Homo sapiens: one gene and its partners. The protein of the gene in region 3 purifies or fractionates together with the protein of the main gene of each other region. This does not show direct contact. Each region holds a gene or a part of one and is shown on either strand. Other genes may lie near its edges.

Evidence for each region.
Region 1: the proteins of VRK3 (region 3) and HNRNPR purify together in Homo sapiens (affinity purification with mass spectrometry, with the first as the bait; one large-scale study listed by BioGRID). This does not show direct contact.
Region 2: the proteins of VRK3 (region 3) and PSME3IP1 purify together in Homo sapiens (affinity purification with mass spectrometry; one large-scale study listed by BioGRID and IntAct). This does not show direct contact.
Region 4: the proteins of VRK3 (region 3) and CMYA5 purify together in Homo sapiens (affinity purification with mass spectrometry, with the first as the bait; one large-scale study listed by BioGRID). This does not show direct contact.

What each region holds. Positions count from the first base shown.
Region 1 is NC_000001.11:23,316,785-23,320,284, forward strand, and holds part of HNRNPR (heterogeneous nuclear ribonucleoprotein R), read right to left. Parts: intron 1,914-3,500; coding exon of another isoform or gene 1,905-1,913; coding exon 1,699-1,904; intron 1-1,698. UniProt on the Homo sapiens protein: Component of ribonucleosomes, which are complexes of at least 20 other different heterogeneous nuclear ribonucleoproteins (hnRNP). hnRNP play an important role in processing of precursor mRNA in the nucleus.
Region 2 is NC_000016.10:57,165,540-57,169,039, forward strand, and holds part of PSME3IP1 (PSME3-interacting protein), read right to left. Parts: intron 1,688-3,500; coding exon 1,554-1,687; intron 1-1,553. UniProt on the Homo sapiens protein: Promotes the association of the proteasome activator complex subunit PSME3 with the 20S proteasome and regulates its activity.
Region 3 is NC_000019.10:49,986,340-49,991,675, reverse strand, and holds part of VRK3 (serine/threonine-protein kinase VRK3), read left to right. Parts: intron 1-1,904; coding exon 1,905-2,037; intron 2,038-3,183; coding exon 3,184-3,304; intron 3,305-4,742; coding exon of another isoform or gene 4,743-4,839; exon of another isoform or gene 4,840-5,336. UniProt on the Homo sapiens protein: Plays a role in the regulation of the cell cycle by phosphorylating the nuclear envelope protein barrier-to-autointegration factor/BAF that is required for disassembly and reassembly, respectively, of the nuclear envelope during mitosis.
Region 4 is NC_000005.10:79,731,336-79,734,835, reverse strand, and holds part of CMYA5 (cardiomyopathy-associated protein 5), read right to left. Parts: coding exon 1-3,500. UniProt on the Homo sapiens protein: May serve as an anchoring protein that mediates the subcellular compartmentation of protein kinase A (PKA) via binding to PRKAR2A. May function as a repressor of calcineurin-mediated transcriptional activity.

The sequences.
Region 1 (3,500 bases), on a different chromosome or scaffold from region 3:
AGCTAGTAAAAAATCAAAATAAAAACTCAGAGCTATTTAAATTCTCTATCCCTTTCCTAGACACCCATCTACTCAAGGAATATGAGATAAAAGATACTGAGTAGCACTTCTGAGAGCCTCTCTGGTTCATTCTGAATAGAACTTATCTGATTAACCCAAAGATGTCACTGCCAACCCAGACTTTATACAAGTATAAACCAGAGTTCTCCTCCAAACTACTTAGAACGAGGGTTTGCCTCCTCAAATTCTGGAATAAAAACCTTGACTTCTGACTTATCAAGAAGAATCCAACCATTAACTCATGGCCATTCAGAGTTGCTGCCTCCCTGTGAAGGGAAGAGACAACTAAAATGCTCAAGAGCTCATTGCAAGCAGCAGAAATGCAACTCTGAGGCCGGGCGCAGTGGCTCACACCTGTAACCCCAGCACTTTGGGAGGCCGAGGCGGGCGGTTCACAGGGTCAGGAGATGGACACCACCCTGGCTAACATGGTGAAACCCCGTCTCTACTAAAAATACAAAAAATTAGCCAGCTGTGGTGGCGGGCACCTGTAGTCCCAGCTACTTGGGAGGCTGAGGCAGGAGAATGGCGTGAACCCAGGAGGCAGAGCTTGCCGTGAGTGGAGATCGCGCCACTGCACTCCAGCCTGGGACAAAGCAAGACTCCATCTCAAAAAAAAAGAAATGCAACTCTGATGTGTCCCAGGAGTCGCCCAAAGGAAAACTTAAGAACCAGTACTCAAGGCACCACTATTAAGATCCTGGCAACGCAAGTACAGGAATCAGGAGGGAATTGAGGGCCCTTTACAGGACTTGCCATGCATATTTTGCCACTAACAAATAAGAGCAAACATGACAATCTTTTGCCTTTCTTCATGGGGACAATACACTAAGGGAATCTGATCATTTAAAAACAAGAGGCGGGGCACGGTGGCTCATGCCTTAATCCCAGCACTTTGGGAGGCCAAGGCGGGTAGATCATGAGCTTAGGAGTTCGAGACCAGCCTGCAATATGGTGAAATGCTGTCTCTACTAAAAATACAAAATTTAGCCGGGCATGGTGGCAGGCGCCTGTAGTCCCAGCTACTTGGGAGGCTGAGGAAGGAGAATCGCTTGAACCTGGGAGGTGGAGGTTGCAGTGAGCCGAGATCGTACCACTGCACTCCAGCCTGGGCAACACAGCAAGACTCTGTCTCAAAAAATAATAATAATAAATAAAATATTTTTAAAAATAAAAACTACAAAAAAAGCTTAAAAAAAGAAAAATTAGCTATAAATCTAAATAAAACATAATTCATGGCCAAGTAATAAAGTCATAATATAGTCAATGAAGATTATAACTTATAATCTCCAAAACATTACTTCTCTCTTTACTCAGGACTTTTAAAAAAAAAAAAAACCTCTATCCCTCACAGTGCCTAGCACTAAACAAACACCCAGTGTGTATGGGACTACTTAATTGAAGGAATTTCATTTCAGTTCCTTTTGCACATTTAATCTGCAGGAAAAGGGATTGTTAATGGAAATTCCTGGATACCAAGACAGGCTGTTAACTTTAGTGTTAAAGCCGCTCCTTGCCAAACAGTTGAAGTCTAAAGCTACAATTTCTATTTATCATAAAACTCAAAATATTTGAGCTTTATTCTGAGTACAAAATTTAAATGATGACCCTATGCCCATTCCAAGCAACTGTATTTACCTTAGCCATGACTTCTGGATCTGGTTCTTCCACAGGGTCAGCCCATTCAACTGTAACTACATTTCCCCACACTTTTACTTTTCCACTCATCAGCCGGCGTCTGGCTTGTGCTGCTGACTTGTGATCCTCATATTCAAGGAAGCAGAACCCCCGATTCTTCTTTTTGTCATCGGGTTGATGATAGAGAATAACGTCCACCAAACCCTCTGTTAAACCAACAGCCAGATATATAAGCCAAAAGCATCCACCACACATCTAGCGATTAGGCAGACCTAAATCCACTTGACGATGAGCAAAATATAAGTGAAGCAGCCTCAACATGAGTCACTAATTTTGTAGACAATTAGATCAACATAATTAGATATGGGGTTTGGGACAGTATTTGATGTTCCTTTTTAATTTTAGGGGTTCTGAAGGTACAGCCATATACAACAAATCTACTATATTCTGACATTTAACATGCTACAATGTTTTAGAGCGTTTGATATAACATGACTTTATTAAAGCACTAACAAGGATCTTAAAAACAAAATTAGTAATATAAACCCAAGAGAACTAACTTTTGACAACTAATCATGGCCAAAAATCTTCCTTGAAGCTAACTTAAAAGTTACTATTTTTACCAAGAATGGAAGTGATCACTAAATATTAGTGTTCCTCTGGTCTTAGTCCTTTGCCCTTATCTCTCCGTATGTGTTCTTTCTAAATAATGTCAGCTAGCCCTACTTTTAAATGTTACCTATACCCTTATAAATACTTAGATTTTTTTCCTACCCCAGACTTCTCTAAGCTCTAGATGTGCCTACGTTCTTACCCGATGTATCCTCTTTGATGTCTTAGACATTGCAAATTTAACTTTTCCAAAACTGAACCACCATGGCCAAAATCTGCCTTCCCTAGACTTCCTATCTAATAAACAGTGCCATCCACCTGGTTCTGAAGCCAGAAATTGGTTAGCCATTCTTGATTTCTTCCTTCATCTCTCCTATCCAATTCCAAACTCATTTACTTCTTTCTATCTCCACTGCTATTACCCTAGTCTAATCCTGTATCTGTACTAGTATGACAGCTTCAACTAATTTATCAGCTTCCACTCACACCCCTTCTCTCCAAGCCCCTATCCACAGAGCGCTAGGAATAATATCCCATAAACAAGAAATAGGTGTTATTTCCTGCTTAAAACCTTTAAATACCTTCTCATTATATATACAATAAAAACCCAACTCCTTACATGGCCTACAGAAGCCCTGCCTACTTCATTTCATACAACTCTACTCCTAATTCTACCTTTTAATAATACTGGCCTCCTCAGTTACTGTAATATACTGACTTCTTTCTTGCCTTGGAACCTTGGCACGTGTTGCTGTCTTGGAATGCACTTCCTTTTGCTCTTTGTATGCTACAACCTCTTCATCCTTCAGGTGCTGGTTGACATGTCATCTTATCAGAAAAGTCTTCCAAAACCATGGAAACAGGGATAGTAGCTATTCTCTAGCTAAATATCCTGTATTTCCTGCTTCAGTGTCTTATCACAATGTCTAAATATTCCTTTAATTTTTATTTTTTATATTCTTGGTCTTATCTCCTTTCTCAGGATATAGGATCTATGAAAGCAGAGAATATGTCTCTTAGCCATCAGTGTATCCCAGGCACATAGCACAATGCCAGCACTTAACAGGAACTTTAATAAACACCTGCTGAAAGAATGAATAAATGATCATGAAGCCAGAAGGAGCTATAGATAATAAAGTGATGAGGTCAAAGAACTGTGCCAGCAGTTGACAACACAATACTTGACAACA
Region 2 (3,500 bases), on a different chromosome or scaffold from region 3:
ACATGCCAATGGCTTCCAGACCTTCACCAGGCAGCAGAATCACTCATGGAACTTTGAAAACTACGACTCCCAGACTTCACTTCAAACTTACTGAACCAGAATTAGTGCAAGGCCTGCGAATATAAATTATTAACAAACTCCCAGGTGATTCCAATAAACTCAGGGTCGGACAGATTAGGAACTCCTGCCCCAGGAGACTACCTTACTACACAAAGAAACATTAAATGATGTTGTTTCAAAACCCAAAAGGGGTTATATGCAGGTCACCAAATACGCTACTACAGAGCCTTTTCTAAAGGTGATCTAAGAACTAAGGGAAACAGTTACAACACCCATTCTGCGACCACCAAGAGCAGTCTCAAGGGATAACAAATTGATCACCTGGAGAGCCCTCCCTTGGCATATTCCAGTAAAACTGACCCAGGTCCAAATCCTGCGAGTCCCTAGTCTTGCAGGAAAGCTTATGTGAGAACTTGAAAGGAATAATTCATGGTTTGGGTAGCGAGCCCTTCTCAGGATAACTCCTCCCCTCTGTTGCTATACCAGCATGACATTTTTACATGTAGGCAGTGTTCCTAAGAACATCTGCAGCAGATGGGTGGTGTGCCAAACCACAAGACTGCATCAATACACTCCCTTCAAAACATATGGCTGGTTGCCAATATATCATATTGATTTTCCTAATAGACTGCACTTAAACTTATCATTTCGCCCACAGTCTGTTGGGTCAAATCTAAATGACCAGATTCAATCACTCTGATGACATTTCAGGATTTGGAAAGGGAGGAGCAAACATAGCAAAGAACTTATCATAGCCTTGAGACAGTGCTATCACTTCCACATCAATCCAAACCTAGCCACAGCCAGGTCTGTAACCCTGCCAGGGCTGCCATGTTCTTTCAGGACAGGATGCCTTTGCAGCAGCTATTCCCTCTGCTTAGACTGTTCTCTCCCTTGTTGCTTGTCAAAGCCCTAGTTGTCCTACCTAATCAGCATCTTTCCAATGGTTTCCCCCAACCTCCCCAACATGAAGATGCACACAACACCCTCCCAGCAGCATTGTATGCTCCTCCTCCTTGCTCTCAGTACACCCTACACAGATCCTTTCACAAGACTCACTACCTCATTTTTCTAGACAGAAGCCCAAATAATGAACTCTAGCTCTCTGTTTCTCTATGATCTTGCACAAAGAAGGGTCTCAACCTCTCAAACTCTTGGTCTTCTCATCTACAAAACAGGGATTATAATTGTACTTCATAGGGTTGTTGAAGAATACATGGGATTATGCACAGGAAGCACTTAACACAATGCCTGGTGTGGCAGATCCCCACTGAAGAGTAGCTATTATTTATATTTGTTGAATAAGTGATCAGAGAGACGAGGGTCAAAGCCTATAGAAGGCCTCAAATCTGGAAAGGGAGAGATAGGTGAGCACACCAAGGGAACTTCACCAGGACTCACGCGAGGCAAGCGTTGGCTCTGGCTTCCATTACAAGTGGTGTTTCAGAGTACACGGTCAGAGAGAAATCTGAGTTGTGTGAGTGCTGACTAACCTCTTATGCTTCACAGCTCCTGCCAACAGCTTCGCCTGGGAGAACTTGTTCTTGGTTTCTATAGGCTTCACAGTCAGTTTCTTTTCCACTTCCTTCTTGTTCTCTTGAGAAATTCCAACCTTCTTGAGGTTATTGTGAGTTACCAGTTAAGGGTCAAACTAAGCAAAAGGGAAGACAACAAATATAACCCACTAGCCCTTCGGCTGTGCGATGTAATGTCTGGCCTACTTATTTAAATAAATGCCCCACCCTTCTTTATTCTGCCAGTCAAATCCAGCCAATTCAAAGATAAATGAAAGAGACCATGGAGGAAGACAGCATATAAAGCCCAAAATAATACAGATAAGCAACCTTTTCCTCTGATTCTCAATGAAAATCTGAGCATAGCCACAAAACCCACTATTACCAAGGACATGGCCAATATCATGCTTGATGAGGAAAACAGATCTTAAGGAATATAAAGAAAACAGAAAAAAAAATGTGGCTTCCCTGAAAACATGCTTCCCCCTTCAAGGGTTAAATCAAATTTTGCAGAATGTTGTTCTGACTATCAGTGGCAATTAATCTTAGACATCACGAAGACTAACTCCTGCTCCACTGGTGCAAGGAAACATCAGAATCACCCCAAGGCTCATTAAACATGTCAAGTCCCTCCCTGCCCCAAACCTACTGAATGAGACCTCTAGAGGCCCGGGAGTTTGTTTTAAACACTCTCTGAAGGTGATTTTACACTTGATCTTAGCCAAAAGGCCAAGAAACAATCAAAGGTGATTTTAATGAGAAATCCTGTGCATATATACAAGAACTGAAAAGCTATTTTTAAAAGCATGACCAGTTCGCTTGTAACATCAGTTTTTCGTTCTTGATGCCAATCTCTGGCTCTCAACTTTTTACTCTTTTGAAGTGAAGAAAGGCCCCATATTTTTGTCGGGGAGGTCACTTTCACTTGTTCCCTCCACCAGCCCTCCCTCCTCTCCCTCCACTTCTCCCTCCGTTTTATGCTCTCTCTTGAAACGTCTTAGACAACAGATAAGTATTCTGACACAGTGCAAGTCCTTATTTAAGATGCACTAGTGCCTGGAACAATAGTGACATCTAGTGCCCAGGAAATCTAAGAAGCATGAATTATCAGCCCAAAAAGGTGGGTGGAAGTAGAGGATGTATGGTTAAGGTTATTTATCTACGTGTCTTTGAACAATGGAGAAAATCCTAAGATTTTCCAGAAATCCTAAGATTCTAATTCTAATCACTCTCCAGGCAACTAACTCTGTTCTTATGGGCACAAGTTACCTTAAATATTTGCAGTATGCAATGGAAATTAGATATAATGCTTAGTACTATTATGAGTTTAATGAATTTAATGTTTTTAGGGTCATCATGGAAATAGATAATGTTAATACTCATTTTTATTTAAAAAAAAATAGATTGGCCAGGCACAGTGGCTCATGCCTGTAATCCTAGCACTTTGGGAGGCCGAGGTGGGCAGATCAACTGAGGTCGGGAGTTCAAGACCAGCCTGACCAGCATGGAGAAACCCTGTCTCTACTAAAAAGACAAAAAATTAGCTGGGTGTGGTGGCACATTCCTGTAATCCCAGCTAGTCGGGAGGCTGAGCCAGGAGAATCGCTTGAACCCGGGAGGCAGAGATTGTGGTGAGCTGAGATCGTGCCACCGCACTCCAGCCTGGGTAACAAGAGCGAAACTCTGTCTCAAAAAAAAAAAAAAAAAAAAAAAAAAGATTTCATCTTTCTAGGAGAGAATGCCAAAAAAAAATTAGCATGTTGTGATTTTTTATCTGCAACTCCATCATTAGGAGACAGAAGTTCTCAAAACTCTCAATATTAAATATTAAAAAAAAACAAAAATGGAAAAAAAACACAACAAAAGCATGTATATATTTATACATTATTTATACCACGACATAGACAAAACCCAACATTTAACTTT
Region 3 (5,336 bases):
CAAAGCTTAGCAGCCCTGGCAGAAACAGACCTGAACTGCGTGGACTGAGAACTGGGGAAAAGCAATCCCAGATGAAAATCCTGGAACTAAGCATTAGGAATCTTCAGAGAAACAGAACTGGCAGGGTGTGTGTGTGTGTGCGTGTGTGTGTGTGTGTAGAGATTTATTATAAGGAATTGGCTTATTGATAATGGAAGCTAAGCAGTCCTGAGATTCTTCAGTTTGCAATCTGGAGACCTAGGAGAGCCAATGATGTAAGTTCCAATCCAAAGGCCAGCAGGCCTGAGACCCAAGAAGAGGGGTTGTTTCAGTTCAAGTCCAAAGGCAGGAAAAGACCAATGTTCTAGCTCAAGCAGTCAGGGAGGAGGAGCTTCTGGTTACTTAGCTTTTTATTCTATTCACATCTTGAGTTGATTGAATGAGACCCACCCACATTAAGGAGAATAATCTGCCTTGCTCAGTCTACAAACCCCAATGTTCATCTCATCCAGAACACCCTCATAGACACTCCCAGAATAGGGTTTGGCCAAATGTCTGGGCACCCCATGGCCCAGTCAAGTTGCCACATAAAAATGACCATCATGGCCAGGCCCAGTGGCTCACACCTGTAATTCCAGCAGTTTAGGAGGCCAAAGTGGAAGGATCGGATCGCTTGAGCCCAGGAGTTCGAGACCAGCCTGGGAAACATAGGGAACCTCATCTGTACAAAATAAAAAATAATAACCTATCCAGGTGTAGTGGCATACACATGTGGTTCCAGCTACTCAGGAGGCTGAGGTAGAAGGATCACCTGAGCCCAGGAGATGGAGACTGCAGTGAGCCATGATCATACCACTGCACTCCAACCTGCGTGACCCAGTGAGACCCTGTCTCAAAACTTAAAAAAAAAAAATTATTTTTTTAATGAACACCACAAACTGTAAACAGAAAAACAGGGAGCCGGGGAAGTGTATATAGGTCTTACATAGACAAAACCAACAGTTGTCCACTATCCATATGGTGGAATAAGATGCAGCCATTGAAAAGAAGACATGGACTGGGCACAGTGGCCAAGGCAGGAGGATCACTTGAACCCAGGGGTTCAAGACCAGCCTGGGCAACAGGGCAAAACCCCATCTTTACAAAAAATCGGCTGGGCATGGTGGTGCATGCCTGTAGTCCCAGCTACTCGGGAGGCTGAGGTGGGAGGATCACTGGAGCCTAGGAGGCTGCAGTGAGCCGTGATCGCGCCACTGCACTCCAGCCTGGGTGACAGAGTGAAACCCCATCTCAAAATAAATAAGTAGATATTTTTGAAAGAAGATTTGGTTAACTTTATGTATCAGGCAGAAAGCATTTAACTTTTGTTTTAAACTCAGTTAAGCCTTATAAGAACCCTTTGAGGTGGGGACTATTATTATCATCATTTTACAAATGGAGAAATCATAGCAGAGAGAACTGGTATAGCTTGCCCAAGGTTGTACCGCCACCAGCGGGCTGAGTTGGCATTTGAACCCAGGCCATCTGGCCCCAGAGTTAATGCCCAGAACCACTATTAAAGTGTAAAGTGCCGGTGCCCAACAGGAGGTCTGGTGTGAGGCCTCTGTGGAAAACAAGAGCCCCCTCCCCATCCACATATGTTTACCTGGTTATTTAAAAAAAAAAAAAAATTTTGGAATGATGCATACGAAACTGTTACTAGTGGTTATTTCTGGGCGATGGGTTTTAGGGGCTGGGAGGAAATATGGATGGCTGGTTTGGGTTCTTTTTACTTCACATCATTTTTACTATGAGCATGCCTTAGTTTTGTAAGTGAAAAATGCCATCTTTGGTAGAATGTTTGTTGTCACTTGCACCCACGATGGAAATCTCTGACTTCTACGCTCCTAACCTCCAATCTGTATGGCTTTTCCCTGTGTCCACAGGTGACTTTGGCAGGCTATGGCTTCGCCTTCCGCTATTGCCCAAGTGGCAAACACGTGGCCTACGTGGAAGGCAGCAGGAGCCCTCACGAGGGGGACCTTGAGTTCATTAGCATGGACCTGCACAAGGGATGCGGTACGAGGCCAGGGATGGGTTTGGGACCGCAGAGAGATGCTTCTTATACAAGGGCAGCTCTAGGAGTTCACAGCCAGAGACAGCAGGTGGCCAGACAGGAGAGGCACTAAGGGCGCCAGGACAGGGATTGGAACCACAGACAGCGTCCCGACCGCAAGGGAGGTGGGTGGGGTAGCGGTTCAGCACTAAGCATAGTGGGAGGCTGGGCACTGGGGAGCCTGAGTTCCAGAGGTTGGGGTTCAGGATCTGTTGTAGACTTGGAAGATGGGAGTTGCCTAGGAGTCATCCAGGAGGGGCTGTTGAGGAGGTGGTTGGCCACCACATCTGGAGTGTGGGAGGGAGATCTGGGCAGAGGCTCTGCAGTATCTCAGAAGTTATCAGCCGAAGCCCTGGGAGAGGATGGGATCATCCAGGGAAAGTGTACAGACTAGGAAGAGGGCCCAGGGCAGATTTCTTGAGCCCCTCTTTCTCACATCCCTTTATATCATGGCCGTCCACATGCCTGCCACATCCTCCCATCAGACTGAGCTCCCCCAGTACAGGGATGGCACCCCTGCCTCCAGCATCGGGTGGTGGAAGGCCAGCACGGACAAGTAGTGCTTGTCGAGTGCTTACACAAAGCGTTGTCTAAATTAAGCGTTGTCTTATGCTCAGGAAGCATAAGAAAAATAAACTGTCAGAGTCTCCCCCGCCCTCCCCCACTGAGGCTGGGTTTGGTACCCATCCTTCTGGGCTCCCGTGTGTTCTGTGTCCTTTGTCACTCAGGTAGTCGCACGCTATAGCTGTCTCCCCACTAGGCTGTCACGGGCTGGGACCCGACGAGATCCTGGTCTGGGTTTTCAGAAGTGAGCTGGGCCTGGCACACGGGTGCTGAGGCTTGATTGAATGAGTGCATGAATGAAAGAGGAGTGGATGAGGGTGACCTGGTAAAAGGGGCTGAGAGAATGGTTGAGTGAGAGAGAGAATGAGTCAGCTTCTGCCTACTCATGAAAGTGAATGAGCGGAGGAGACAGCCCATATGGCTGGAAGGCTGGGTGTATGAGTGTGTGGTTGAGTCAGTGAGAGAGAGGGGAAGGAAGGGGGGTGGACCCACCAGTGAGTGGAGCGTCCAGACTTGAGCTGCCACCTTTACTCCTCCTTCCCCAGGGCCCTCCCGCCGCAGCGACCTCCAGAGCCTGGGCTACTGCATGCTGAAGTGGCTCTACGGGTTTCTGCCATGGACAAATTGCCTTCCCAACACTGAGGACATCATGAAGCAAAAACAGAAGTGAGTCTAGGGGTCAGCAGAACCCCTGCAGGTGGTCAGCAGAACCCCTGCAGGTGGACAGAAGCCCAGAGCCCAACTGGGAGCAGGAGGGAAGGGGAGGTGGCATCCAGCAGAGCCCAAGTCCTCTGAGCCGCACAGGCATGTGCTGCAGTGTCCACACAGCAGGCGAGGCAGGTGTTCCGGAGCCACACTGCCTGGGCTCAGACTCTGGCACCACCACTGTGGGGTGTTAACGTCTGCGAGCCTCAGTGTCCTGCTCCATGAGATGGTCTCCTACTAGCTACTACCTTATGGGACTGCAAAGAGTTCAGGGAAGTCAGGTGCACACAGCACTTAGCACAGGGGCTGGCTCAGAGAAAATGCTCATTGTGGCCGGGCGCGGTGGCTCACGCCTGTAATCCCAGCACTTTGGGAGGCAGAGGCGGGCGGATCACGAGGTCAGGAGATCGAGACCATCCTGACTAACACAGTGAAACCCCGTCTCTACTAAAAATACAAAAAATTAGCCAGGCATGGTGGCGGGCGCCTGTAGTCCCAGCTACTTGGGAGGCTGAGGCAGGAGAATGGCGTGAACCTGGGAGTGGGAGCTTGCAGTGAGCCAAGATTGCACCACTGCACTCCAGCCTGGGCGACAGAGCGAGACTCCGTCTCAAAAAAAAAAAAAAAAAAAAGCTCATTGTGTGTGGGAAACTATGACTCATTCATCACAAACATGCAGGCAATCTGAGCAGGATAGGCCCAGGCCCTGCCTCAGCACTGGTAGCACCACCTATGCAGTGTCCACACTGCCAGATCAGTGCCTTCACCTCTGTGTAAACCACCAGGTCTTACCAGTGCTGGTTTAAACATTCAGCACCAAAGCCGGTGGACAGCGGAACATATGAGGAAGTTCTGGGGTGAGATTGAACACTAAGGGCATTGAGCAGCTGGACACAGAGGGAGCACTAGGGGTATGGGTTCAGCACTAGGGACAGCAGGCAGCTGGGCACAAAAGGGAGGCACTAAGGTGTGTGTTCAGCACCAAGAACAGCAGGCAGCGGGACACAAAAGGGAAGTGCTAGGGATGTGGGTTCAGCACCAGGGACAGCGGAGCACAAAAGGGAAGCGCTGTGGGTATGAGTTCAGCACCAAGGACAGTGGGCAGCTGATCCTAGCGGGCGTGCTAGGCATGCACTTCAGACATGAATATCAGTTGCCCAGGCCGGGCACGGTGGTTCACGCCTTAATCCCAGCACTTTGGGAGGCCAAGGCAGATGGATCTCGAGGTCAGCAGTTCGAGACCAGCCTGGCCAACATAGTGAAACTCTGTCTCTACTGAAAATAACAAAAATTAGCCGAAGCAGTGGTGGGCACCTGTAATCCCTGCTGAGGCAGGAAAATTGCTTGAACCCGGGAGGTGGAGGTTGCAGTGAGCCGAGCTCTCGCCACTGCATTCCAGCCTGGGTGACAAAGCAAGACTCCGTCTTGGACTTGTTGCCCAAGTCATCTGGGAGGCAGCTGGCCATCTACGTCTGAAGTGCAGGAGTGAAGTCTAAAGGGAGACTCAGACCCCGGGAATATCTCCGGAGCCATCAGCTGAAGCCCCAGGAGAGGATGAGATTATCTGGGAAGGCATATAGAGTGGGAAGAGGGTGAACCCTCCAGTAAATGGCGTTGAGTCCCTCATGTTTCCCTGTCCTTAGTGTGCCGTGAAGTCCTTCCCAGTCCTTCCCTCACATGAAGCCTTTCTCGTTTTATTTTACTCCCTTCGTGTCTCCCAACTTCCTTCTCTCAACCATGGACAGCTGCTCAAGCACACTTAACATGTGTTCTGATGTGTTCACTTAGATGTATTTGTACCCTCAAAATCGCATGCTGGCCGTGGTGCTGTGTGTGATTTGCGTAAGTGATGTTCCACTCTGCGTCTCATCTGTCTCTGGCTCTCTTCAGCTTTAACCCTATCCCTACATGTGGACCGAGTTCACTGCTTCTGACTCCGGCTTCTAAATCAATTTTCTATAGACATGTCTGTGTCCTTAAACTATATATGGTG
Region 4 (3,500 bases), on a different chromosome or scaffold from region 3:
CTTTCTCCAATAGCAAACTTTCACTCTCCATCAAAGAATGAATCTCCTTCCCCTCTGCTATGTTTCTCTCTACATTTCCAGCTAGGACTAAAGACTTTGGTTCTTCAGCCAGCTTTACTTCTTCAGAAGAGTAACTTTTACTTGATAAGGTCTCTGTATTACCACTGGAAGTATCAAGAGCAGATACTGCTTCTTGTGATGACAAATGAGATTCTTCAGCAGAATGCGGCAGGACCTGCTTTCTCACTTCACATGTATGGTCCTTACTGGACACAGCAGCCTTGAGCTGCCCTGGCCTCAGCTCATTGCTGCTAGAGGAATCCAGCTGCACAGATCCTGCTATTCTCTGTTCGTGTTGACTAGCCACATTTTCTGGCTTTCCCAACATCCAGTTTTCATCCTTTGGAGAAATAAAGAATTCTTCCATTTTTGTTTCTTTGACATCCGCAGGCTTGGTTGTCATAAATGATTTTGATTGTTCCAAAGGCAAATTCTCTCTCATAAGTGAAAACTGCTTAATACCCAGATCTTGTTTATCTTCAGAAGAGGTGCTTACATCAGGTAATTTAACAGTTTGATCTGAATGAAGTGCTTTTTCTGTCTTTTTTTGTTCTACAAGGAGGTCAGAAGGAGCAATCTTTGATGGTTCTGTTATACTCTGGAGTACCTGGGATGAATTTGGGTGGCCTGTTTCTTCACTTAGCTTATCTAAAATATCTCCCATGACTTGTGCCTTCAAATTTCCAGTTGGTGGTAATGGGCCTATTTCTTGATTTCCTCCCTTTTTAAAGTCGGCTGGATGGCTAACCTCCTCTGATAATCCTTTTAAAGAAAAAGTAAATGGCTGAAATTCTTCTGGGTTGCCTCCTTCAGCTACAGAGGCAGGTGGTTCTTTCGACTCTAGGCTGATGATCTTGGGAGAGAAAGGTTTAATTTCTTCATTCTGAGATTCCTCCCTAAGCAATGATGAAAGCTCTGAAATTGCAGGCATCGTAGAAGATGCACAAAGCTCTCTATTTTCTTCTTTTCCTTCTCTGCTCCTAAGCTCAGCTGGGCCTTTTTCTAAAACAGAATCCTCTGTTTCAGTTATGGGAGACTTTGCTTGTTTTGTACCTATGGATCCACTTTGTCTACCTAAATCACTAGAAAATTCTGACCCAGCATTTGGTAATTCCAACGGTTGGTGTGGCTTGTCTTTCTTCTCAGGTTCCAAAGACAGCTCTGCCAAAGCAACATCTTGTTTTTCTGATGGGAAGTCTCCCTGAGCTGTAGAAGATACCTCCACTGCCGGTTTGTTCTTATCATCACTGAGGAGCAGTAATGTTGGGGCTAAACCTGATGCTAAATTTTCCAACTCAGGAGATGAACTTGCTGTTTCCTCATCTTTGCCTTTTGGGATTATATGTTTGGATGCAGGTGACACATTTTGTGATGAAGGAAGTTCAGTTTCTTTCTTCTTTATCTCACCCCATAGGCTGAGTGGAAGCTCATGTTCAGGCTCTAACACCTCTGAGGTAGACATCAAGCTCTTCTTCTGTGATGAAACCAAACGTTCAGAGTCACAGACTGTAGAAAATAAAAGATCTTGTTTGTCTTCTACCCTTGCTTCCTCAGATTTATCTGAATGCTGAGAAGATGATGTTTTGATTACTGGCAACCCAGCTTTAACTTCTTTGGCTTCTACTTCTGACAAAACAGAATGCTCTGCTATAGAGGAGACACTTGGAAGTGAATCAAATTTAATTTCCTTCTCTGCTTCTGACCAAGCTAAATGTTTGGATGAAGTTTCAATGGGAGAAGCACCTTTAATTGCCACCTTGTCTTCTTCTGCAAGAACTGAATGTTCATCTGCAGATGTTACCAGTGGTGGCAAACCACTTCCTAATTCACCCTTTCCTACTTTTGTTAAGACTGGACGATCTACAGGAGTGATAAGAGATGAATCTGTTGGGATTTCTTCTTTTACTGCTCTGGTTAAGTTTGAATCAAGCTTAGTTACAGATGCTGTAGTTGTTGAGGAACTGGGTTCAATTTCTTTTTTAATTTCTTCTGACAAAGCTGAAAATGCTAGTGCAGGTGGACCATGTTCAACTTGCTTTTCCACTCCTGAGGAAGCTGAATGAAGCACTATAGGTGTAGTTGTTATTTTGGAATCATGTTTCATCTCCATTTTCACTGCTGATAAAGCCTCAGGTCCAGATAAAGATGTTTCCTTTAGAGGTGAATATGGTTTTATTACTTCAGGCTCATTCTTGGACAACTTTCTCTGTTCTAGTTCAGAAGTCACATTTAGAACTAATTTGGGCTTGACACCCTTCTTTGGCTCATCTACCATGTCAGGCAAAACTGAATATTTCATCTCAGACTCTGGAACATTTGGAGGCTGAGGCTCCATTTTTTGATCCTGTGATACATGTGCTGTAGCTTCTTGAGAATCAGGCACAATTTCTTCCTTTCTGACTTTTGACAAAGCCATCTGTTCATCTGCAGCTTTTAGAGTGAGTGCTGCTGTGGGTTCCTGTTCTTTCTTGATTGCAGGGACTGAATCAGGTAAAACTGAATGTGGAGATGCAGGTTTGGTTTCTTCCTTTACTATAGATGATTGTGCAGGTAAAGCAGCAGGTATTGCAGCTACTGATGAACTTGCCTCCCTTTCTCCCTTCTCCACTTCACTGGTTAAATGTGAAGGAATCAAGTCTTCAGACTCAGGCTCTAAATATGCTTGAGTTTTCTGCTTCTGTGCCAAAATGAGATATTCAGATACAGATGTTGAGGTTGTTGGAATCTCTGGCTTAATTTCTGCTTTCTCTGATTTATCTGTTGAAGGCGGCAGACTTAAGTCTTCAAGCGGAGACATCAAAGGGAAAGTTTCAGCTTTTTGCTTCTGTGATGAACTGAACTGCTCAGATACAGGTGTAGCAGCTGTGGATCCAATGTCTTCCTCATCTGCTTCTGAAAAGCAGGAATAACCTGAAGCAGACACTGCAGTTAATAGTGAATCAGGCTCAAGTTCATTTTTCTCTGTTTCTGAGATTCTAAAGGGAGGGATTGAAACTTGTGATGCTGAGTCTGGAGAGAACAGTTCCGCTTCTTCAGTGTCTTCATCTGACAAAATAGTGTGCTCAGATGGTGATGTTAAACATATTGGAGAATCGCACTCAAATTCTCTTTTCTCTGCTTCCTGGGTTGCATACGGTGGAAATGAGAATTCTGACACAAATGCAGAATCTGGAGAAAAAGGTCCAATGTCTTCTTGATCTTCTTCTGATAAATTCATGGGTGAGGATGCACCTTTTAGATTTAGAGATCTATGGACAATTTCTTCCTCCTGTGCCTCCGGTGTTGCATATGGTGGTACTGAAAATTCAGAAGCAGATGTAGAAGAGGGTGTGTATCGTTCCAACTCGACTGCCTCTTCGTCTGATAGAACAACATATTCAGATGGGGTGGCTGAAAGTGGTGGGGCCTGGCATTCAGAAGTCATCTCGGTTGTGTGTGGT